Linked DNA regions of Homo sapiens: all the other regions are linked to region 1. Evidence: fine-mapped expression QTL. A gene starts in region 1. Each other region holds a variant in brackets. All regions are shown on one strand. Distances are between the middles of the regions. Region 1 holds the start of MOXD1 (monooxygenase DBH like 1). Region 2 overlaps CCN2-AS1 (CCN2 antisense RNA 1). Region 3 overlaps MOXD1 (monooxygenase DBH like 1). Region 4 has its middle 30 kb from the start of MOXD1. Region 5 overlaps MOXD1 (monooxygenase DBH like 1).

Region 1 (5,108 bases):
AATACCAATGCAGAACACTCAATTACATCTGGGGCCAAGGTTTCCCCCACAGAACAACTTTGTTACGAGGATGCTTACAGGAGCATCTGGGCATGCATCTGTTCACTCGTCCTACAAGTATTCATTAAGCACCTATTGCAAGATGTCCACATTCTAGGCAATGAGAAACCAGACATGGTTCCTGACCTAAAGAGGCTACTGGAGGAAAACAAGCCTGTAGACAGAAAGTACACTGAAGTGTCAGGGGTGCCATATGGGGTCTGGCAGAACATTCCATGGGGACTACCGTGGATAGTATCCACAGATAGGATGCTATCTTACAGTGAAGTGTGAGAAGGAGGACAAGAAAATACTTCAAAGGAAGGAAGGCAGAAGTGACAAACCCTGCGAATAGGCACAGTGATGCAAAATAGCACGGCTCTCCATTGAGGATTCCAGAGGGATTTTTCATGTGGTCTACAGGCCGATGGGTGAGTGAGATGGGAGTGATGGAAGGTAAAGCTAAAACAGTTAATGGGGGAAGAATTCTGGAAGGCATGACCTCTTTTTGTTTCATTAAGGAGACAAAATGTCCTAATAGATGTGAATTTGGGGTTTATATAACGAACCCCAGGAAGCAGATGTAGCAATGTGCTTGTTCCAGGTTCCTCCACACTAGGAATAAAAGTAGGGTCACAAAACAGAAAGTTTGCCTTTAGTCACTCTGCAGTAATTTAACTTCCCTGAAATCCCTGCCCAGGATAGTGAGAGGATAGTGAGTGTGTCCCACCCGGTGCCATGAGCCACTCCTCTGGGACTCCATTCCCCCTATTTTGTTCCTCTTTCTCTCCATATCCCCCTTCCTTTCTTCATGGCTGAAGCCACGTCCCTGGTATGGTGCTTGTAAAAACCCAATTCTAAGGTTGCCACCCTTACATTGCTGTATGGCTGTTACTGCCCTTGACATTTGCCCAGTGGGTCCTGGTGGAGGTGAGGCACCAGCTACTTATATTTCATAGTCTCCATGCCCAGTTCTTGTAAGGCTTTGCAGGCTCTTTTATTTCTCATTTTATTTTGCGGTTCCAACATCACTCTTCTCTGATGCTGGCCTATTGCCATTGGCCAGCCCTGCGGACCTTGATCCAATCTCTCCTTGGGAAAAGTCCCTTCCCAGGCAAGTCCCTGAGCACTTTGGTAAGCAGATCCACCTACAGGTCACCTTCCAGACATGATCAAATATTCCCGTATCCTTAGAAGAATATAAATTAGATGCATGACGGTAACTTTGGAAAAGTTATGGGAAAAGATAGGCAGGGGGAAAAACAGGCTGAAATACGAGGTGAGGAGAGAGAATGAGGAGTGTAGGGTGGCTAGTGTGGAGCTTGCTCTTCTTACCCATATTTCTCATCTGATATTCTCTCTTATTTGTTTTTCTATTTTGCATTGTTTGTATTTTTATAAAGACAAAATTTCGAACTTTTTTGGAAACTTGGCAGATCATAAATAAAGGAATAAATAAGCAAGGTAAATTTTAGTGGCCATATTTGTATTTAGCATTCTAAAGACAGGAGTGGTCAAAGGTAGAGGCAAAACCAAAACAAAACAAACTTTTGACAAACATGGTTATGGCCAGAACTTGGAATAGCAAGAAAAGAGAATGTTAAATTAAAATATAACTCTCAAATGACAATTCACCCCTTACCTTCTCTGCTGATGGCAAAGTAGTTTGGCTGACTTTGTCCCATCAACGCCAAACCAAACCAAACAAAAACTAGGTGAAGGCAAGCGTCAGGGCTCCAACTCCTGCCGTGAGGAGCAAGCTCTGCGGCCCCGCAGGGTGGGAGGGTGAGAGAAATTCTCGAGGTGGGGGGCTGGGGAAAGTGAAGTGTGTCCCTCCATTGCAATAGGGACGTCACTGGGAACAAAGGCTCTGGAAAGTCGACAGCAACGGATACGGAGACGTGAAGGTTACCCTGGACGGGCCTTTCTGTGCATCGCACCCCAGACTACCCCCTTTGCTCACTCAATTCCTCCTCTCCAGGCTAAACTTGCTCTCTGCCGTCAATGTCCATTCTTTCCCTGGTAACCTCTCGCCCACGTCCCGCAGAGCCCACGCTCTTCCCGCTCTAGGATTCTCTTGCCCTCCTCCTTTTCCCTCTGCCTCTGGCCTCCTTTTCTCCTCTCTCGGCGTCTGCCTCCTCCTGCCTCCTCCTCCCTTTCTTTCCGGGAAGCCCCTCGCTTTCCTTCCCACCGAGCCCCGACCTCGGGGACCAAGTCAGGGGTCGGGGGCTGCAAGTGGATCCGCTGGAAGGGCCGGGCAGGGTGAGAGTTGGCGGGGCTGGGACCCGACGGGACGGAACGGGACGGGACCGGACGGGACGCGGCGCGCCCTGCAGGCGGCCCGGGGCGGGGAGAGCGGGTCCTGCCCCTCCCGGGCGGGCGCGCGGCCGGCCCGAGGGGCGGTCCCTGGGCTCCCGCTCGCCGCCGCTGCCGCTCCTCGTTCTGCTCCTCACTCCCCAGCGGCTGGAGGCCGGTACCGGCGGGCAGGAGGCGCCCGAGGATGTGCTGCTGGCCGCTGCTCCTGCTGTGGGGGCTGCTCCCCGGGACGGCGGCGGGGGGCTCGGGCCGAACCTATCCGCACCGGACCCTCCTGGACTCGGAGGGCAAGTACTGGCTGGGCTGGAGCCAGCGGGGCAGCCAGATCGCCTTCCGCCTCCAGGTGCGCACTGCAGGCTACGTGGGCTTCGGCTTCTCGCCCACCGGGGCCATGGCGTCCGCCGACATCGTCGTGGGCGGGGTGGCCCACGGGCGGCCCTACCTCCAGGTAAGCGCGTCTCCTCCCGGAGCCCGCCCGGCCGAGCCCGGTCCCGTCCGGACCCCAGAGAGGGCGCAGGTGCGGGTCGTCCCCGGGGCCCGCAGCTCTCTCTCACCTGGCGCAGCCCCGCGCCCCCGGCCACGCTCACTCTCGCCTCCGCGGGCAGCGCCTGCTCTCCCGGAGCCCCAGAAGGCGCGCGGTAGGGAAGCCGAGCACGGATGACCCCAGGCAGGTTTCCTTCTTTGAACACTTTCCTGTCCCCAGCGCCCCACTTAATAGACGCCCCCCCGCCTACACACCTGCAATACACCCCGCTTCATCCCTGATGGGAAGGGAGAAGGACCTAGGCTTTGGCTTTGGGGACCTAATGGGACAGCTCTCAGAGGAGGGAAGGGACAGAGCGCTTTAGTACGTCGCGGACTTGCTGTCTAGGAGTGGAAATCTCAGAACTTCCCAAATCGTGGCTATTTGGGAGCCTCCAGGCGCGGGGCTGATGTCAGCTACACCATTCTCCAGAAGAATGAAGGGCCCCTAAGAATCGCTTAGGGACTTTCCTATTCCGAGAGCTGTTCAGGAAGCCACATTTAGAGACCAAAATCGAAGGTCCCCAGGCAAAATATCCTATGAAGTGACAAAACTTTGGCTTACTTTAATAACCAATAAAGTTAATTTGACCGCTGCTGATTTACTTTGAAGGAGCCTAAGTAACCACCTTGCCTGTTCATGGGTGCTTTACTAAATAGAAAGAAAAAAAAAAAGGAAGAAGAAGATTGTGAGATGACCAGAATGATTAGGTGGCTAGGTTTCCTGGACATCCTTGCTTGATCGTGACCAACGTTTGGATGGCGGTGAACGTACACGCTTTGTTATTATAAAAATTCATCCGAACATACTGCCCTTTGCTAAAAGTCTTGATCCAGATGAAAACTCCGAATTGTTCTGGCATTGCATTAAGGCTTTGATAGTATTTAAATCAGTGTTCTCCGTGGATTTAGAGTGCGCTTCTTAGTAATTTTATCCCCAGGTTCTTTTCGACTGAAATATGCCATCAAACTTGAACGCTGATTCTGGCACTGAGCTGTTAACTCTGGAAGGAAATAAAGTGACAACAATAAAAAGTTCAAAACCACTCTATTATCTATTTTTTCATAAATTAATCGTTTCTTCCCCCAAATAAGTAACTTTACAACTCCAATAAAATAAAGTTTTATGAGGATTGCATTCTGCTGAAGTCACTGATGTATAAATATTCTCCTCCTGCAGCATCTCAGACATTAACTTTATGAACCAAGTATTTGACCACAAATGCAGGCCTCACTAGGGGAATGACTCATTCTCCTGTAATATAAAGTAGACAATACCTTATTTAAATACCTATTTAACGTTTTTTAAAAAAGAAATTTTACCGTTTAGGGAGAGGAGTATAGTATGCCCCTTAACTATCCTTGCATGTTCTACAAAAGGGAGCATAACTCTTACTATGCTAATATTATAAAATGGGACATACTTTGAATGTTAACTCCATATTATTTTCCCTCAAAGAGTAGCATTTCTAGAAAGCCCAGCCAATTGTATGTCAAATGAAAAGCCGTGAGTAGAATTCTGATTCAACATGCCATAATAGGCCCACCACAAAGATAAACTTGGTTAAACTACAGTGTTTTCACCCTGTTTGTGGTTCTTCATAGAGATTGCATAGGACTTAGTTAAGTACTCTTTAGATTGATTTTGAAACATAGAAATTTTCTTAAAGTAATTAGTGAATACACATCACTATGAGATAAATTATGACTGGCTGCATTCTCAATACATTTAATGAGCAATAAATAGGACTTCCCGTCCATTTTTATTCCTAAGGAAATAAAATCATTTTTACATGTAAAGGATGATCGTTTTCTTACTTGGCTGACATATTTTACCTTCCATTTCCATAAACATTCTACTCATTTTAGGACATATAAAATGCATTAAAATTATGCTATTCAATTAAATGGAAAGACAGTTAACTTAAAATCTGTTTAATAAGATGAAATACACCAAATAATATAAATGAAATAAATGTATCAATTTCAGTTTTATTATTCAGGCTGAATGATTCCATTCTCCAACGCTCGAAATTCAGTCTCCTCTCTAGAAACTATTTATTTAAGGTTCTTCATACACTAGTGTGAGAAGAGTATTTTCAGCAACTATACCAAAAAGTGAATAGGATTCTCTTTTTTTTTTTTTTTTTTTTGACAAAGTCTCTCTTTATTGCCCAGGCTAGATTGCACTGGTGCAATCTCGGCTCACTGCAACCTCACCTCTCAGGTTC
Region 2 (5,108 bases), 440 kb after region 1:
AAATATTTGTATCAATTAAAAAAATCACCATTAGTCTTCACATTAGCAGTGTCCAGTGAATGCACCCATTACTAAGTGAATGAATGAATGAATGAATGAACTAATGATAAATTTGTGAGCTAGCCTCTCAAGTAACAGCTTTAGCTATGTTTTTTTCTCATCAATATAAATATTTCCACTACTTCATAGTGACTGGATGTCCACTGCATACCAAGCATCATTGTAGGAATCATGGAGAATCATAAAAGAGGGTCCCTGAATTCAATACGCATTTACTGTGCCTTGTATTTTTTCCATATGCCTGGCATTTTGCAGGTTGTGGAAGAAAAAAATACATACATACTGTTTATTAAAGCAAGAGGAGAAACAGAAGCCTAACAAAAATTACAGTATTACTAATTCTTAGTTTTGAGGCTCTCTTCATTTTACCCTGTAAGTCAGTAAATGTCTTCTTAACATTTGCTAATCCCTGAATTAGTATAGAGCAATATGTATGTTAGAGATGTGTGTGTGTGTGTGTGTGTGTGTATTTCAAAAAACTAAAGGACTGGAAATGAAAGCAACGTATTCAACATTAGAATAAAAGAAAGAAGAAAAAATTAGGATTCTGGCTCTTACAACGCAGTCCCTTCCTTAATCTTTCAATCCCCATGTTGACCCAGGTCAAAATGGCCCATTTACTCTCTTCCATGTGCCACGGCATCCCCAAAGTCAGGACTGTTGTCCCCACTACTAAGGTCTGAAATGCCCATGCTGCTCCTCTCTTCTTCATCCTTTGGCCCAGCTATGTCCACAAAAAACGTCAGGCTGGGTTTTTTCAGGTTGGTTATTTCTTCCTTTGTGGAACACTTAGTGCTAAATCCTTCTATTTCCACTTAATGACCGACCTCTGCTGACTCACCGACACTTGAGAAAGAGCTCTCAAGCCTCATGGTGTGTGGTTCTATCATCATCTGTGCCTCAAAGTGCCTCAGAAATTCTAATTTCAGGGTCATGACATATTGCGTTACACCAATCCTTCAGAGTTTTCTGTGTCCTGTGGTTCTCAAGTTACACAATTGCGAGGACCACTGGTTGAACTTTTAGTCTATATACGTCTTGCTTCTGCAAATAGATCATAACCTCCTTGTAAGCAAGAACCAGGTATCTTTTTACATCTCGCTGTGTTTAACACAATGTTAGAAACAGACCAAATGCTCAAAATATTTGTGACTTATTTATTTCATTGAGAGGTAAACAATAATAAATGACTCACTGATTTTTAATTTGGGACAGTTGAATACATTTATTAGTCTGGAAGCATTTCACACTAAGATCCTCTTATGCCTAAGGTTAGGCAACTTTGACAGCCGCATTGATTTTTAATATTCTATCAGCCAGTCAATCAGCAACTTTTCCTAAACACCTACTAGTGTTACTAGCCAATTTTCTAGAGAATTATTTACTTTAGTAAATTACGGTTAGAATAAAATAAACATGGTATTTCCTGATATTCTGAAGAACACAAACTTACCAGGTATGAATACATAAGCCTCAGAAATTTTATTTATATAATCAATAAATACAAAATATTTACCTATGAATTGATATAAATAGCTATTTTATAAATTATCATAGTTTCTAAGACCTTAGTAATTATGCAGTTTTAGCCAAATTTTATAATATTTTAAAGTTCAAGCTAGTCCCCAAACTTTACATAAAAAATTCATTCAGTGGTAGATCTGTTTGTACCAGATGCTATGTGAGAGTTATTCACAAATACTCAGAAGTCAACTTCCAAGAAAAACCTTAAATTACCTAAAAACTTAAGAAAAAAAATGGTAGCAATTTGCCAGTAAGCCCTCCGATGATCTTTGATATCTTTAAATCAGAAGAGTTTCTATACCCTTTCCCTTTCAGAATTTTAGAGATTTTAGAAAGTCTTTGCCCCAAAATGTCATTAAAATGTTATCATTTTCTACATATTCCATTATGTTAAAAAAGGTTGAAAAGCATTGCTCTACCCTAATACTATAATAGAATTAGAAAATTATATAAATAGTTACATCAGAAAATATCAATATGAAAATAAAATTATGCCTCTCTCACACTGGTGAAGTCTGTATCAGCTAGGACATTTTATGGTACAATATCGAGAACTTTTTAAAATAGGGTTAGGGGAACATATTGGCTCATGAAATTGATAAATTGAGAGATGGAGTAACTTTAGGCAAGGCTTGATTTAGTACCAAAAATAAGGTTTTCTTCTGTGCTTATGCTCTGTATTTCACTGCAGTACTTTCATTCTTAAACTCCACACATTCGTCTCCCAGCAACCACAGGTGCTCCCAGAATGTCCAGAGCATCCCCAGACCTCACATCTTCACACTACCTCCCTCAGCTGCTTATTCAGATAGTTTATGCTGATCGTTTGGTATTCCAAGGATACACACACATGCACACACACACGTGTACACGTATATATAATAAATATATATAAATTTACATATATAATTTATATATATAAAGATATATATATATCTCTTATTTCCAAGATGTCAATTAGACAGTAGAATAAACTTGGAGATGAAGACTAGAATTTTCTTTAAAATGAAATGGAACGTATTTTAAAATACCAAGGGCATCACATCCAGTAACGATAAAATTACAAAATTTTTGTTTCACTGTGAATGTGTATGTGTGAGTATATATTTACTGGATCAAACAGAAAAAAAGCTTCCTACTAGAGTCAAAAGTTTATTAGGGTTGGGCATGACAGCTCACGCCTGTAACCCCAACTCTTTGTGAGTCTGAGGCAAGATGATCACTTGAGGCCAGGAATTTGAGACTAGCCTGGGCAACATACCGAGACACCGTCTCTACAAAAAGAAATTAAAAATTAACCAGGTGTGATGGTGCATTCCTGTAGTCCTAGCTACTTTGGAGGCTGAGATGGAAGAATTGTTTGAGCCCAGGAGGTCGAGGCTGCATGAACCATAACCACTGCACTCCAGCCTAGGCAACAGAGTGAGACCCTGTTTCAA[G/A]AAAAAAAAAAATAGTTTATGTGATTGAACATACTTAGCCACTGCTCCAAGTGCTGGAGAGCAATCGTGAGCAACTTATAAAGCCATGAAACAGCATGATAAAATGTGTAAGTTATTCAAATGCACTGGTAAAACCAAAGAATAGGGCAGGAGCCCTGGAACTGATAGATAAGAATGGAGAACATAGAAGCCAGACAAAGGCTCTTATCTTAGAGGTAATGGGAGCCACACAAAGGTTTGGTTTTAAGCAGGTGAATAAGCACTGTAGATTGATAGATTTCTCAGGCAGCAGTGGAGAGAATGAATTGGAGGGCAATAGTGTGAGTTAAAAGACCAGTTAATAGCAGAAAGACTAATTCAGTGGTCCAAGCAAAAGATGTTGAGGGTATGATGTGTTAGGAAGTTATCATGAGAGGTAGAGTCCACAGAGCTTTATGAATCATCAAATATAAGGACTGAAAGAGAAAAAAGAATACAAGACAACATACAAGCCTCAGTATGGAGTGACTGGGAAGACAGTGTTCTAATCACTAAGATGGGTTCACATCTAAAGGCAAAAGATTTTGAAGTAGAGATGAGTAACAAATTTAGTTTTTACTATGCTTACTTAACATCTGAATAGGACATTCAGATTAATGTGTTGTTAATAGCACAAATGAACTCAGAACCGAGTTTCCGGTTGGGATCCAGACAGCAGGCAACCATCAACAATGTGACAGGAGAAGAATATGTAAGAAGAGGACTAGGGACAAAAGACTACAGGTCACTCACATCATAGGGGTAGGCAGAGGGAAATGAGTCTGCAAAGGAGAACAAAGGAAATGGTCAAAGAGATGGACAGAATGGGATTCAACTAAATACCTACAGAGAGATCAAATTGTATGAGAGCTGGAAAGAATCCACTGGATTTGGCAACAAAGAGGTTATTTGGTGATAATTTGCAGTGCCATGGTCAGGAGCTTTATTACAATGGGTTGAATGGTAATATGAAGGTGTGTATTTGGAGACAGTAAACACAGGGGATTTGTGTGTCACTGTGTGAGTATGTGTGTGTTTTAGGAGCTTCAGTGCAAAAACAAGCAATGAAAAGAGGCTGTTAAGACAATGGGAGGGTTGTTTTATTTCATTTGTTTTGGGGTTTTTCTTTATTATGTGAGAGAAATGTAGCCATGTTTATAGGTTGGGAAGAAGAAGCTGCTAGAGAAAAACAAATTGAAAGACAGGAGAAAATGAAAAGAAAAGAGAGCACATGGTTCCATAAGAGATGTAGTGCCACAGGTTCCAAAGAGCACATGGTTCCATAGGTGACATGGTCCCATAGGTTCCAAGGAGCACATGGTTCCATAGGTGACTTGGTTCCATAGGTTCCAAAGAACACATGGTTCCATAGGAGACATGGTTCCACAGGTTCCAAGGAGCACATGGTTCCATAGGAGACATGGTTCCACAGGTTACAAAGAGCACATGGTTTCATAGGAGACATGGTTCCATAGGTTTCAAGGAGCACATGGTTCCATATGTGACATGGTTCCATAGGAGACTTATGCTTTTGGATCTAAAGCCCAAGTGGAGGTCTGTCTGAACCAGCACTATTCTGTCAAACTTTCTGCAAAGATAAAAATGTTCTCCATGCCATCCAAACAATAACCGTTAGCTGTACATGGCTACTGAGTATTTGAAATGCAACCAGTACAACTGAAAAACTGAATTTTAACATTGGTTAATTTAAATGAAATAGCCCTATGTGGCTAGTGGCTGTAGAACTGAACACTGCAGCTCAAACTAAAGAAGCGAATAGGAAGCTGAGAGCCCATCAATCCTGGAGACAAAGGCTGGAGGTTTTCACACCTGGTAGTCTCATGTAGAAAGGAAGGCTGATCAGCAGGGAGGCAGAGGAAGGGTTGACAGGGTAGGACCTTGGAGGGAAGCAGTTAGGCTTGGAAGGGACACAAAGGAAAGGATGGCAAAGAACTGACCAGAGCAACTAAAAGCACAACATAGTAGAACCGAGGACACATCTGAGACTAGAGACCACAAATGTATGGCAGACACTATAGGAACAACTAAGGCAGGCACTGGCTTGAA
Region 3 (5,108 bases), 69 kb after region 1:
TTTTTTTTTCCAATACTCGGTGTCTTTCACAAAAAGCCCTTTTTGAACTGAATCTGTTTTCAGGGTAGGTGCTGGTGAAGAGAGATCAGCAGGTAGGCACAGTTTTGTCAAAGATCTCATTCTTTCAGTCACTGAAGGGAAATATACATTTCCCCTAAGATTTTCTTGCCTCAAATTCTGAAACATTTTCTTCGTTCTAAGTTCTAGGGAATTCTGCAACACATAGAATTTTTTGGTATTATCTCTGTACCCAGTCACTTGGTCTTAGGTTCTCTATGTCTCATCCCACTCTGTATAGCTCAAGTTAAGTAGAATAAGATGCCACCAAGTGTAGATTCTTTGAATCGTTTCATTACTTTCTACATTGTAAAAAATGAATATATAAAATGGGTTCCTGATATTTAAGATTTTTTCAATCATATTGTGTCCTTTGCATCAAATTCTATCCCCCCAGCTCTGCCCTCAGGCAGCTACAGAGTGGATAGAAACGCTTTCCTCTCTCATCAAAATAATGAAGACATTTGCTGAGAGCTGATTAGGAGGTGTGCATAAATTGGGAAAGGTTTTAGGATAGCCACTTCAGGGAGCTGAACAGAATGCAGAGCAAAACCAAAGAAAGATTGACGTTCTGAGGCAAAAGTGTGAGTTATGAACTTTGAAGTCTCATGCGAATACTTGTATAAAGTTTATCTCCAGTGTCCTTAGTGGAGGATGAGAAGGAGCAGATGACAGGAGTGATTCACCATTTGAGCATTTGGGTCAGTTGTGAGTGCTGGTGAGTGATGAGTTCAGTGACCTTCCAGGAGAAAATGGCTGGCTGAGCAACTGGAAAAGTGTGAAAGAGCTAACAGGAAAGGAAAGAGGCACAGAAAGAGAATTTCAGAGGTAGTGTACTCATGGGCAGGGTGTGACAATGGGATTCAGTAGCTGAAGTGGGATGCAGTATAGTGGAGATAATCAAGAAACTAAGAGGCAAATGAATTTAATGATTCAGCCTCATTGATGTTGGCTTCATGGAAAGGGTAGTATTCATTTTATTTCAATTCAATAAATAGTTATTAAGCACTCTTTGTGCTGCAGGGGCTATGTGAGGCATATTTGACCTGGATAAAGTGCGTAAGAAGAGATGATGAGATTAGGAAAAACGGTCGTTGTCAAGGTCAGCTTTATGGTCAGTGTTAATTTCCACCTTGGTTTTGGCTACTCTTGAGCAACTGTTTATTGTTGTTCTCTGCTTTTCTTGCTAAGATATCTCAAGTGTATCTGAAAGCTCCCGTTACTTGATCTAATGGAAGAGACTGTTTTCCTCTTTCAGGTTGAAGTCTTTCCCTTTCTGTCTGTGTTCTGGTTTCTGGGCTGTTCCTTTAATACACACAGTAGTTAATAAATAACCCACGGCTGCCAGGCCCTCCTTGCCTGGTCTGTTTTGCCATCAGAAGGTAAGCTCACGGGCCTGTCACCATTCTGGGTCTGTACACCCCACCTTTGTACAAGAATGTGGGATCAATAACATAGTTTGATGTCATCAGGGGAATTTCCATGTTTGTGTCTTGCCTCCACTTCCATATGCACTGCTTTGTATTTCTTTTTATTTATTTCTTCTGCCATCATACAGCCAGGCTACAAGCAAGATTAAATTAAATGTTCATTCCAGTGTCAGGAATACCAATATATCTATATTCGTATACTTTCTATGGTCATGACTTTCTTTAATAATTCGTACAATTTTAATATTTTTGAATAGAGGCAACTCTTGGCATTCCCCCTGTGATTGTGATAATAATGTGAATGTGTGAAGTAACCAGAATAAGGAACACTTTTTAAATGCTACTCTGATACATTACAGGGTCAGTATTTTTTTTTTTTTTTTTTTTTGAGACGGAGTCTCACTCTGTAGCCCAGGCTGGAGTGCAGTGGGGCGATCTCAGCTCACTGCCAGCTCTGCCTCCCGGGTTCACGCCATTCTCCTGCCTCAGTCTCCCGAGTAGCTGGGACTACAGGTGCCCGCTACCACGCCTGGCTAATTTTTTGTATTTTTAGTAGAGACGG[G/A]GTTTCACCTTGTTAGCCAGGATGGTCTCGATCTCCTGACCTTGTGATCTGCCCGCCTCGGCCTCCCAAAGTGCTGGGATTACAGGCGTGAGCCACAGCGCCCGGCCCAGCCTCAGTATTTTTAATTAAAAAATGTATAACTCTGTCATCATTACAAGTAATATAATAATGCAAAAACAAAAGTCTTGTCTTTTCCGTGGACAGTTACCCAGCACATCAGAAAGTCGGGTTAATGCAGCATTCAGCCAACAAGCAGGAAGGGGCATGGAGCTCTGTGTGTGCCTCACTCTGCTTCCTCAGATGGTGCCTTGGCTAAAGAAGAATAGCATAACATAGTTTAAAACACAAGTTTGTTGACTGCTTAAAATGTTTGTAGAACTTGTTGTGGGAGCAGAAAATAACGAGCAGCCTCCATCAGGGGATTGGTAGCAGTGCCCTGGCTTGATCAGGCTTTGTAAGCATGGCGTGAAGCATTGTGGGAAATCCTATCCTGTGCTAAGCATTTGAGCCAATGGCCCTGTCCTGCACTGATCAAAGTACTCCCATTTCCTCAAGTTGTACCCTCCACTAAACAAGTTATGTCCATCCTTAAGGAACATTCTTGGTGTCTCACTTAATATCCCCATGGTGGTCTGAAAATTTCCTCTCTAGAAATTATTCTTCTATTTTTCAGGAGTTTGATAGTCAGGTAATTTTTTCTCCCATATTATCAGTTTCTTAATTTATATTTATCCTTACATGTCATTTCCAAGCACTTCTTTTTCTTTCTTTTTTTCCCTGTCTTTGCTCACATCCTTTCTATTTTGCCAAGGGCTTGCTTCTTCCAAGCCTTTTTATCCTCTCCTCCCGTGATCAGTACCCAAGTTTGCAGCAAGGTTCCTTGTTGTTTTATGGGTTGGTGTTTTTGCTTAGGAAATCCTCATGTTTTAGGCTGCACCCTCAATCTGTAATCTGAAGGTCAGATTACAGTTTAATTCTTCTTGAAGCCCTCATCAAGTTTCAAAGAGAAGCCTTGTTATTTGCCCTTTGTAAGAAGGAACACCTTGAAAGGCCATGGGTCTGTCTTCTCATCCTAGAGGCCAAGGGGCACTGGGACTGGAGTGGCAGGGAGGCCATGAGCCCCCTCCCCAGGTGTAAGACTCCCAGTCTGGCACTGCACCTCTGAGGGCATCTGCATGTGGTGGTCCCTGCTAGTGGCTTCCAGAAGTACCTTCTGGCATTGGCTCCTGAGGTCATCACCCTTGTTGATGACAGCTGTCGGCAACTTGCCTTACTGAAGCCTTTCATCCTCCCTCCCACCGGCAGCAACTTCCAGGGTCCTTGATGCATCTCCAACACGCTTCCTACAATAATGTGTAGCCGTAGGAAAGTACAGACTTTGGGGTCACACTAGCCTGGTTTAAAATCCCATCACCCTTTCCCAGCTGTGGTACTTTGGGCTTGTTGTCTAATCTCTGAGTTTCAGTAAATCTGTAAGATAAGGATTATAACATCTTTCTTATAGATTTGTTGTAAATATTAAATGAAATACATAGAATGATTCATATGTGGCTAGTAGATAGTAGGTCTAAATAAAAGACAGATGTTATTATTATTCCAGGGATAAATTGGTAGCTTTGCAGTTTGGTGTTAGTTTTAGCACTTCCTATGAAGACAAAAAAAAAAGCACTTGCTCTTAAAAGTTTCTTTCAAGCTGTTTATTTGAAGCTCCCCAAAGTCAAGCACCACCCAGCATCACACACCCTTCACTCCCTCTTCCTCTACTTCAATGAAGGCCACTAGTTTCTGAAACTGTCGTGACAGTAACCAACTCTCCTTTGCCCTAATGGCTTCTTCCCAAGATCTACCTTACAGAGCTCAGTACAACCTTAAGGTTCTGCCTGAATTTATGAGGTATTTAGCAAAAATCTCACATGTGCCTGAATATTTTACTGTTGACATCTTAGCAGTGCCCTGTCCCCCTTGGAGGACCGAGGAACCCAAAAACGTCAAGTCTCAGACAGAAGCTCAAACTAGACATAAAAATGAAATTCTTATAGAAATTCTGGGTTTTACTTCTGTGCAATCATTGTTACTATGCAACCATGCTTGAACGATAACTACCCTTTTCAAGCAAAATAGAAAAGTTTCTGCCTTCAGGCCACACGACCTTTTAGAGACAAAACAAGTGCAAACAAAACCGTGTGCAATGTTTTTTCCATGAATGTGATGTTGAAAATGTACCTGAGGCTTAGGTGTGGCATGACTCGCTATGTAACACAGAAGAAAACTGGATTTAAAAACTGGAATTTCTTGGCTGCCCATTCAGACACGACCCACTACATACCATTTCCCCCCTTGCTTAGATTTCCCTACAGAAAAGAGAAAAACTGTGGAGAAAATGGAAAACAAAGCCATAGGAGAAAAGAGCTGAAAACACTTCATGTAAATGTGCATGCTGAAAGTAGAGAGCAAGCAAGGATTTTAAAATGCGGTGCCTGAATTTGAGTAGTTAGGACTAAACACAGAAGTGTTGATGAACTCTAAGGCTAAACTCTTGGATATTTAGCAACACGCCAGGGCTACTTTATCAGCTGAACAAAGATTCCAAGAACTCTGAGGGGAAAGAAAAAAGAACCCTGTAACTCAGCGGTCTCCAGCCTTTTTGGTAACAGGGAACTGGTTTCATGGAAGACAGTTTTTCCACGGACTGGAGGATGGGGGAGATGGTTTTGAGATGAAACTGTTCCACCTCAGATCATCAGGCATTAGTTAGAATCTCATAAAGAGCACGCAGCCTAGATCTCTCACATGCACAGTTAGTTCATAATAAGATTCGCACTCCTATGAGAACCTAATGCCACTGCTGATCTGACAGGAGGTGGATCTCAGGAGGTAATGTGAGTGTTGGGGAGCAGCCATAAATACAGATGAAGCTTTGCTCACTTGCCCACTGCTCACCTCCTGCTGTGCGGCCTAGTTCCTAACAGGCCACGGACCAGTACTGGATTGGGGACCCCTGCTCTAACTGATGCAACACCTACAGCCCACCTACACCAAGTACAAGGCTCCATTTGGTC
Region 4 (5,108 bases), 30 kb before region 1:
AAAGTTGGCCCAGGACTCCAGAAACTAAATGATTAGAGATTTGATTTTCTCGTCTCCATCTATTAATATATTTAGAAAAGCACTTTACTTGATAACAGAAGATTAGATGAATTGTGATTTGTCTCCTGCCCCCAAAATATCTTTGGGCATCCTAGTCTCTGTGACTGAGGGTAAGCAGCTCCAATACTCCCCTGCCCCAGGGACAAAGGGGACTCATCTGGGTCCCATGACTTGTGCTCTCCCATCTACACATCTTGTGAACATTCCTGTGTGAACATGTGCTCTCTTATGACATCCTCCTTATGTCTTGGTTCTTGGTTGGTGTATTAGTCTGTTCTCATGCTGCTAATAAAGACATACCCAAGACTGGGTAATTTATAAAGAAAAAGAAGTTTAATGGACTCAGTTCCACATAGCTGGGGAGGCCTCACAATCATGGTGGAAGGTAAAGGAGGAGCAAAGCCATGTCTTACATGGTGGCAGGCAAGAGAGAATGAGCCCAGTGAAAGGGAAACCCCTTGTAAAACCATCAGATTTCATGAGACTCATTCACCACCATGAGAACAGTACAGGGGAAACTTCCACCATGATTCAGTTACATCCCCTGGGTCCCTCCTACATACGTGGCAATTATGGGAGCTATGATTCAAGCCGAGATTTGGGTGGGGACACAGCCAAACCATATCAACTGGCATTATGGGTTAAATGAGTTTATCATCTCTCAAATAATAATGGTAATAAGAAGACAACAACTTTAAAAAGTGAATCAAACACATTGACCTGGAAGTAGCCCTTGGCTCCCTTTACTTCAAAACTGAAATTTCTTCTGTGGAATATGCTGTCCCACTTGAGAGAAGATTGCAGTGTGTTTAGCAGAGATAAAGATGCTTTCTCTTCTCAGCTTCAATAGGGAGTCTCTCAGGAATTTAACAGGTTATTGGTTCAATCGAAAGCTTCAGTGAGTAAATTGACTCTTCTTTCAATCCAGACACCCGACTGGTGATGTAGTTCGCCAGCCTGTTGTGTGTCAGGCAGGCCCACCTTTGTATTAACCCCTTTGAGGTATGCTTTCTGGCTCCTGTGGAGGTACATGACTCTGGGTATGTCTAGCCATGCTTACCGAGATTCATTTATAATCTTAGCATTGGTGTATCAGAAAACTTGTTTTAACTGGTTTATACTTTTGAGGGTATTTGTGGTATTATCATTTTTAAACATACTTGTGTTCATATTTATGTTCAAAGAGTCAACCCCATGCAGGATGAATGGAGTAAACCTAACACATAATTAATATGCATTTTAATTTCAACTATAATGCCATGATTTTTCTCTAAAGCAGAACTTGAAACATTGAATGGCATGCTTATTTGTTTATTCCTAAGCAAAATACTTAAATGTCTTAAGTTTTTTTGTATCTCACTCACATTACTTGATATCTAATTTGACTCAATTGAATACAGGAAAAAATGGAGATATGTATGTGTATATATATATATGTGTGTGTGTGTGTGTGTGTGTATATATATATATATATATAATTTCACAGAAAAAAATACAGTCAACTAGTCCAGCAAATAACATATCTAAATATTGAAAAGCATATTTTAAACCAGTAAATGACAGAATTAAGAGACATTGAATATCTAGAATAAGGACTACAAGGAAGAAAATATTAGGAAACACCAAATTTGCTTTCTAAACCTCTTGACACTTAACTTTTAAAGAAGAATAGAAATAAAGAGACATTTTCTGTTTGCAGCCTCAGATTTTGTTTAAAATTATATTGTACAATGGTGATGACTACACCATTTGGCTCCATCTGAAGAAAGAACATGATTGAGTGAGCAAGTTTTGACATTTGAAAATCAACATTGTTTACATTTAAGAAAATTCACTATAGATTGTTTTTAATGAGTTTAAAGAGGTCTATAAAGACTTAAGTAAACTGTATTCTATGTTCATATTACTTCTCTTCAATTATATTTTCCCAAAAGTTCAATAAGT[G/A]TAAACATGCTAAATGAAGCCATATGTCCAAAGCAGACAACAATCTTAACTCTCATTTGCATTATACTTAAGTTCAAAGCATTTCCCCACTTAAAATGATTTTAAAACAAAAAGGTGAACACTTGATAGGTTCATAATTGGGAAATAAGTTATCAATAGAGTAACAAATTTGTGAATTTATACCCAGAATACACAAAGAAAGGAAACACATAAAAATATTTTACCCAGGTAATCTATTGAATTTCTAATGTAAAATAGGGTATTAAATCTTGTGTACAACAAGATACATTATGGATATAGATATGTGACCTCAGAATTTAAAAAAATTCAAAACAAGCAAAGATACGGAATCAACCTTAATGCCCATCACCAAATGAATGGATAAAGGAAATGTGGTATATATACACAATGGAATACCATTCAGCCATAAAAAGGATGGAATCCTGTCATTTGTGACAACATGGATGAGCCTGGAGGACATTGTTAAGTTAGATAAGCCAGGCACAGATAGACAAATATTGTATCATCTCACTTGTATGTAGAACCTAAAAAAATTTGATTTCATAGAAGTTGAGTAGAATAGTGGTTACCAGAGACTGGGAGAAGGGGGAGAGGGGAGATGAAGAGAGGTTGGTCAATGAGTGCAATGTTACAGTTAGATAGGAGGAATAAGTTCTGATACCATATTGCACAGTAGGGGTACCACAGCTAACAATAATGTATTTTATATCTCAAATAGCTAGAAGAGAGGATTTTTTTAGTGTTCTTGCAATAAAGAAACAATAAATTGGTGATGGATATGCTAATTACCACGGTTTGATCATTACACAATGTATGCATGTATTGAAACCTCACATTGTACCCCATAAATATGTGCAATTACTATGTGTCAATAAAAATAAATTTAAAAAATTCATAGCAGAATGATGTTGTTCAGTTAGGGACTGAGTTCCTTGTTTATATTTTTGCCCTTCACACTTTACATTCAAAAAGTATTTATTGAGTGAGTAATATGTAGGCAGGCAATACATATTTATTTTTTCCATTTGGAGATGGCAGCGGAGTGTGTATGATGCATATAGTGTCTCAGGCACTCATATTCCAGGACCCACAGTTTAGGAGATAGAGCTAGGAGTGAAGATATGTTGGATGCCATATGAGTAGGTATATGGAGCTACCATCCCTTGGAGTAGGAAATTAACTCTTTTATCCTATATTTCAAAAGATATCCTAAGAAATTAACATAATGAGTTCCTCTCAGGCTTCTGTGTGGAGGAAGCAGGGGCCCAGAGGGATAAATACTCAGTTATTTGCATGTAAGGGCATAGGGTCCTACTTGTCTCTAGTATTGTCTTGTAGACTTCCCTTTTCACTTGCAATACTCTACCCCTTCCACAACTTTACTATCTCCAGTGGTATATGAATAAAGAGAATCAGCCCAAATTCATGTTCATCACTCAAGTTTAGGGATTCTCTAAAGGTTAGCACAGTCTTCTCCTCCTCACCTTCCACTGAGACCTGAGTCTCTTTGTCTTCTCAGTGGCTGTTGTCCCTGTGACCTCAAAACAACTGCTTATTACTCTATTATCTGTATATACATTCTTGCATTAATTACTATTAAATTAATGTAATTCAGATTTCCTAGAAGACAATAGCCTGAATACCTACTGGAATAGCATATGCAGGCACAGGTGTCCTGGGAAACTTGTCTCCAAGAAAATTACATGTACTTAGGTTTTTACAAACTCAGCAAAATGGGTTCCATGTGCTGAGAAGATACAAGCTTGCCAGCTCCGTCTCAGGGCTGCAGGTTAGAAGGACGGATGAAAGGCAGGCTCATCTCTGCTCCTTCCCTGCCTCCAAGCAGGTTCACATACATGCTGCTGTTTGCCCCTGTACACACCCTGAAAAACTTTCTCCCTAGTGAATTGCAGACTCTAAACTCATTTCAGAGTTGGTCTCAATAAAATAACATATGTCTATCTCGAAGAAAGGAGAATTTAGTATTTTCACATGTAACTGTGAATTGTAAAAACTATTAACTGTTCTATTTAACTTGAAAATAACAATAGTAGTGGCCTCATCATTAGAATACACTATAAAAATTGGTACATGTTTTCTTCTTAAATTTTCTATATTATGAAAAACATCCTGGAAAACTACAAATGTATTCAATTTGGTACGTAGACCATGGATTTCAAGTGATTTTTGAATGTTTCATTGCTCTGCCACCCTGACAGCTGAATTCATCCCAAAGCACCAAGCATTTTCTGTGTAACTGGCAGGGTTCAGTTGCCGTGTGGAGATCTGACTGGTCGGCCAAATGATAGTCTCATGGCATATTTAAAACATCCATATGTTCTTGGAACCAGAAATAACCTCCTCCTCCATACTGGTGTCCAAGTAAGTATCTCCTAGCAGTATTTTTTTTTTTTTTTTTTTTTTGAGATGGAGTCTTACTCTGTCGCCCAAGCTGGAGTGCAGTGGCGCGATCTCGGCTCACTGCAAGCTCCACCTCCCGGGTTCACGCCATTCTCCTGCCTCAGCCTCCCGAGTAGCTGGGACTACAGGCCCCTGCCACCACGCCTGGCTAATTTTTTGTGTTTTTAGTAGAGACAGGGTTTCACCGTGTTAGCCAGGATGGTCTCGATCTCCTGACCTTGTGATCTGCCTGCCTCGGCCTCCCAAAGTGCTGGGATTACAGGCGTGAGCCACTGTGCCCGACCCTCCTAGTAGTATTTCTAAGGGCAATATTGTTTAAATTAACTATTCCTTTGTATTCCTTTGATAAAAGAAATGGCCATGCTTTGATTAGTATTGTGTTGGCACAACAAAAATCTGTAAGAGAAGAGGAAGGAATAGTTCTAATAAGATCACATTCTTGTTATTTGGAAACTAGCATTATTCTCCACTTTCATATTTATAATAGCAAGCACACCTCTCTAGTGAAGAATAACCAATGAACATACTGTTTTGTGGAATTAAACTAACATAAAAAGACTATTTTTGGCTAAAGAAGAATACAATTCTTAAAAAGCTTGTATTAATTTTTCCTTCTGAAGTTTTCCAATGTTACATTGCATATACGTCTAATTTTTAAAATA
Region 5 (5,108 bases), 77 kb after region 1:
AGCTCCAACTATGTGCCAGATCTGTGCTTGAGGATATAGAGTGAGTGAAAAACAGATGCTGTTCTCACCCTTACAGAAATTATAGCCCAATGTGAAAAAGAAACAATCAATTTTTCATAGCAATCATATGAAATTATATGTATGCCAATTGGTCCAAAGAAGATACCTAACACTATGAGAGTATTTAATTGGTGACCTAATCCAGCCAGGAGTGTGTATTGGTGGGGATGGGCTAAAAAGTCTTCATTAAAGAATCAAACTGTTCATCTGGGTGACTGGAGATGCTGAAGGGTTAGGGTGCAGTGAAGAAAGATGCTGATGAACCTGCAGAGGAAGGCTGAAGCAGACCATCTAAGATCTTGTAGGACCCATTAAGGATTTTTACCCTGAAGACAATGAGAAGCAATTGAAGAGTTTGATACAGTGGAGTCAAATATTGAGATCTGTATTTTGAAAAGACCACTCTGGCTGCAGCAGCATGAATAATAGATTTTGAAGAGAGGACACGTGGTATGATATTTAAAGAGTGATGTTTCTATAAAAGTAGGTGTCAAGCTATTCTATTTGTGAGCAAGCCAATAAAGTATCTTTTTTTACCCTAAAGTAATTAATAGGAAATAGTTTCTCTCTGAATTCACTTTAATTTCCACCCACCAATTATATCCCATACTCTGAACCATGAATCTATGTTAAAAGTTTAAAACTTTCATAAACCAAGCAAAATAACCTATTAATAAATTCTAAAAGTTAGATTTTCCGTGAAATCATATGTGACTATAAAACATAAAAATTGTCATCACAATAACAATGGGATTAATTATTGAATATGTCTTATATTGCAACTTTTAAAAATTTTTTACATTTTTGATTTTAAATTATTAATAGAATAAATATTCTATACAATGTATAATACTTCTCCAATTGGAAATTCTATGTGAACTACTTCTTCCTTTTAGTCTTTATTACAAAAGTAGAAGGCTTAATTTATTTGCCTTCTCTGTTGTCAATTAAGTTGACTTTCTCATAGTTTCAATGTAAAAATGAAACATAAGCTTATTTTCCTAACAGGTTAATAGAGAACTCAGGATTTTTAGTACTTTCTATTTTTATTCATGTACATAATTAGACCAAATTTTAGATTATAGTAATTTTATTTTTATAAATATAACATAATACGAATTTGTTTCCAGAAAAGTTTTTTAATAATCATTTTATATGTGCTTAAGAAATTATTACTTTATTTACTAGATTATCTATTAATGCTCCAAACAGCTAATGCAACTAATGAACCTAACTATACAAAATGCAACTGGAATTTCTACTTATATTTTTTCCCTGTCAAACTTATAAGGAAGTAGATGCCAAAAATATAAAATACAAAACAAAATTTTGCAAGATATGTCCAGAGAAAATTCTAAGGTCAGTATAGATATTCTACATTATCATGCTTATTTGTATCTGCACTGATAATAACACAAAAGGAGAATTGATTTTTATGATTTATTTGTTTAACAATTGATTGAAACCCTGGTAGATGTGTGACCACTGTACGTGTGACTAGCTGCCATTTATTGAGCACCTCATTTGTGCCAAACACTGTTCTTAGAACTTGGTGTTTAAGCCACACATCACACTTATGAGGTAGTAGTGCTACTATTATGGCCATTTTCCATACTGGAAAACTGAAGCACAGATTAGGTAACTTTATGTCTTCATCTGTTCTGTGCTGCTATAAGAGAATACCACAGACTGGGTAATTTATAATGAACAGAAATTTATTCCTCACAGTTCTGGATGCTGAGAAGTACAAGTACAAGGTACTGGCATCTGATGAGGGCCTTCTTACGGGTCATAACATGGCAGTAGGCTTCACATGGTGGAAGGGTAAAGACAGCAAGAGAGAACAAAGCCACTTCTGAAATAATGGCATTAATCGATTCACAGGGGCCAAGCCCTCATGACCTAGACACCTCTTAAAGCTCTCACCATTCAATATCATCACAATGGCCATTAATTTTCAACAACATTCAAACCTACTTTTTGGA[G/A]GAGATAGACATTTAACCATAGCATTTGCCCCAGGTGACATAACTCATATGCAGCAGAGCTGGGATTTGCATCCAGGTTGGTCAGCTCCAGAGTCAGTGTCCTTAATTGTCACATCACAGTGCTTCCTTGTGATGACCCTGAATATCTGAAGAAGCTGGAGTCAACAAACACATAGCAAATATTTTATGTTCACAATTACAAACTCATGAAGCAGGAAAGTAAAGCTTGGATTTTTTTCCAAGGCTGTTAGGGAGGTTGAGAGGTAAGAATTTCCTGGGATAATTATTGAAATACTTAATTTTAACAACTTATTACATCTGAAAAAAATTAAAAGTAATGGATATCTTCTAAGTATGTGTGTGTGTGTGTGTGTGTGTGTGTGTGTGTTTGTGAGTGAAGGGTATATAACATGCAATGAGGAATATTTGATATAGAGACCTTGTGTTTAAAAATGATTGACTAGAAATAGATTAAGCTGATTGATTTAAATGAGACAAGAAAGGAAACTGAGGGGAAGGAATCAATCTGTTAGTTACTGCAGAAGGAAGTCAATTAATTTCCAAGTTAATGAAATGAATTTATGAAATGTTTGGGGCTCATACTCTCCCTCCCTGTAATGAATATTTCATAACGACAAGTGTGTCTTATTCATCTCTCATCCCCACAATGCCTAATGGAGTGCCATTTACATAATGGATTCTTAATGACTGTGTGTTGATTGAATGGCTGTTGAATGAAGAAGAAAATGGTGACAAACTTTAAAGAAATAAAGTGAATCTTTAGTAGTTTTTTTCTTCAGCAGATGGTTTCTAAACTAAGGAGGTTTTACCTCAAAGTAAATGTTATTGAACTTCATCTCGAAACAATATAAAATAAAAGTTTTATTAAGTTATTTATTCTATATTCTAATGAATGACTTTAGAATCTTCATTCTGTCTTCATGTTAGATAATTGTGGAATATAACAGCCAGATAACGGAAACATTTCTCTTGTAGTATGCTGTGTGAGTCCACAAAGGTTGCAGGCAATATGGCTACTCATCTTTTAACTCTTGTTTGTGAAACTGAATGTTGTCTGCCACTAATCTCTGCTTGAATCCCTTTCCCTCATGACAGTTTATGGAAAATAAATAAACCTATTTCAACAGAATATGAAAACTTTAAAAAATTCAAACCAAGAATTTTCTTGGGAATGAAAACATTTTAAGAACCAAAAATCACTTTAATTATGTGCTTTTGTTCTAGGCTTAATAGATAATTCTGGACTGAGGTTATTTTACACAATGGATATAAGGAAATATGATGCTGGGGTGATTGAGGCTGGCCTCTGGGTGAGCCTCTTCCATACCATCCCTCCAGGGATGCCTGAGTTCCAGTCTGAGGGTCACTGCACTTTGGAGTGCCTGGAAGAGGTATGCAGCATCTGAGTCTGAGCTGCTCTCTGCAGATTCATCAATGCTCTTAGAAACTGTGGTGTGAAAAATTCCGCACATGTTTATTATCGATTCCTTTCTTGTTGACACACTGTGAAACCCTTATCGCAATTTTAGTAGGACTTTTGACTGCTTTTTTAAATCTTGAAGCTACAGGAGTAGAACTCTAAAGACAGAAGTAGTTGGCAGGGTGTTTTTCTTCTTACTCCTACCTTTTTTGTTTGTTGCATGTTGCATGCTGTATATCATCTTTTACAATTTCAACCTTTGTTTGTGTAGTCTTTTTCTTTTCTCTAGTTTACCTTTTATCCATATTGATTTTTCCATCATTTATTTTCATTTTTCTCTGCCTTATAGTTTCCTTCCCTTTCTTCACCACAGAGCAAAAATAACTAATATAAAAAAATATATAGGATAGAAGAAAAGTATATTTAGTAATGACAATTTTCACTTCAAGTTTTTTAATGAAAATATTTCAACATGGATCATACTCTTTATGAATTATATGATATTGTGGTTGAGGACAGTATGGCAGACTGGTGAAGTGGAAAGATTATGCTCTTCTGAGTTATTTAGGCCATAGTTCATAATTCAAATTGCCATGACCTCATTTACAAGCTGTAGGACCATGGGCGATTCATTTAATTCCATTGACCCACTTTCGCTTTCTTATCTGGAAAAGTGGGAATAATATTTCCTTTTAAGAATTTGGGTTTTCAGGTTACTAACATACTGGAATCTTTTTGCTAAGAATGTTTATTGCCTCTTATCCTCCTAAAAGAAGGAAAAAGGAGGATAACATGTAGAAATGGTCTGGGAGGCCCCTTATAAGCATCAGCTCCCCTACTTTTCTCCCGGCAAATGTTGCTTCACAAGGAGAACACTGAACAATCCGAATTCAAACTCTTTTTCAGTTCAAGCATTCATTTAAATTGCTTTAGCTTTTTATCTCAGTTGTCCCTCCAAGTGTGTTTGAATGTAAACTGTCTGAACATGCATTAATGTGGGCTAATCGGGTCTTCCTCGGTGTCTCCTGTAGGCTCTGGAAGCCGAAAAGCCAAGTGGAATTCATGTGTTTGCTGTTCTTCTCCATGCTCACCTGGCTGGCAGAGGCATCAGGCTGCGTCATTTTCGAAAAGGGAAGGAAATGAAATTACTTGCCTATGATGATGATTTTGACTTCAATTTCCAGGAGTTTCAGTATCTAAAGGAAGAACAAACAATCTTACCAGTATGCATGTTTTTGTTCTTTTTCATTGACTGTTATGAAAGTCATGAGACATATCTGCTGAGATGTGGCAAGGTTTCTACTAGTGAAATGAATTTTTCCTTGCATCTGTATTCTTAACACCACCCACTGTGGGTGTTGTACAACCCAGATGGAATGTGTTTGATCTGTTTTCCAAAATTGAAACTCATTTTTCTTATAATTCCCAGGAGCAATTCAAGTTGTTGACTGAAAAATAAAAACAACCCCAAACAAAAATCTCAGGTTCTGAGGACTAAACATTACTCTTTTTTTATACTTGACATTCCAGTTAGTGATTCTTTGGGTTGCAATTCCTGCAGTGGTAAAATAGAGGTGTCTTTATGCTATGTTGAAGAGATAGGATATTTTTAGAAGTTTCAT

What was found. PIP is the estimated chance that this variant, and not a neighbour inherited with it, causes the effect. A credible set is the group of variants that fine-mapping cannot tell apart.
Region 2: its variant is the best candidate, but not a certain one, in a credible set for the expression of MOXD1 in sigmoid colon (GTEx, PIP 0.53).
Region 3: its variant is the best candidate, but not a certain one, in a credible set for the expression of MOXD1 in sun-exposed skin (GTEx, PIP 0.77).
Region 4: its variant is the best candidate, but not a certain one, in a credible set for the expression of MOXD1 in gastroesophageal junction (GTEx, PIP 0.85).
Region 5: its variant is the best candidate, but not a certain one, in a credible set for the expression of MOXD1 in unexposed skin (GTEx, PIP 0.87).

Annotation. Positions count from the first base shown.
Region 1 is chr6:132,398,858-132,403,965 of GRCh38, reverse strand. MOXD1 (monooxygenase DBH like 1) reads left to right here and starts at 2,491. Exons shown (of 12, transcript NM_015529.4): 1 at 2,491-2,803. The coding sequence starts at 2,540. RefSeq lists silencers at 2,278-2,417, 2,438-2,607, 2,738-2,787.
Region 2 is chr6:131,962,487-131,967,594 of GRCh38, reverse strand. All of the region lies in intron 2 of CCN2-AS1 (CCN2 antisense RNA 1), which reads right to left. Among named protein-coding and RNA genes, the nearest start is that of CCN2, 14 kb to the right of the region's middle. The variant G/A (reference allele first, on the strand shown) is at 3,024.
Region 3 is chr6:132,330,103-132,335,210 of GRCh38, reverse strand. All of the region lies in intron 4 of MOXD1 (monooxygenase DBH like 1), which reads left to right. Among named protein-coding and RNA genes, the nearest start is that of MOXD1, 69 kb to the left of the region's middle. The variant G/A (reference allele first, on the strand shown) is at 2,050.
Region 4 is chr6:132,428,953-132,434,060 of GRCh38, reverse strand. No RefSeq gene overlaps it. Among named protein-coding and RNA genes, the nearest start is that of MOXD1, 30 kb to the right of the region's middle. The variant G/A (reference allele first, on the strand shown) is at 2,005.
Region 5 is chr6:132,322,280-132,327,387 of GRCh38, reverse strand. MOXD1 (monooxygenase DBH like 1) reads left to right here. Exons shown (of 12, transcript NM_015529.4): 7 at 3,291-3,457; 8 at 4,518-4,709. Among named protein-coding and RNA genes, the nearest start is that of MOXD1, 77 kb to the left of the region's middle. The variant G/A (reference allele first, on the strand shown) is at 2,046.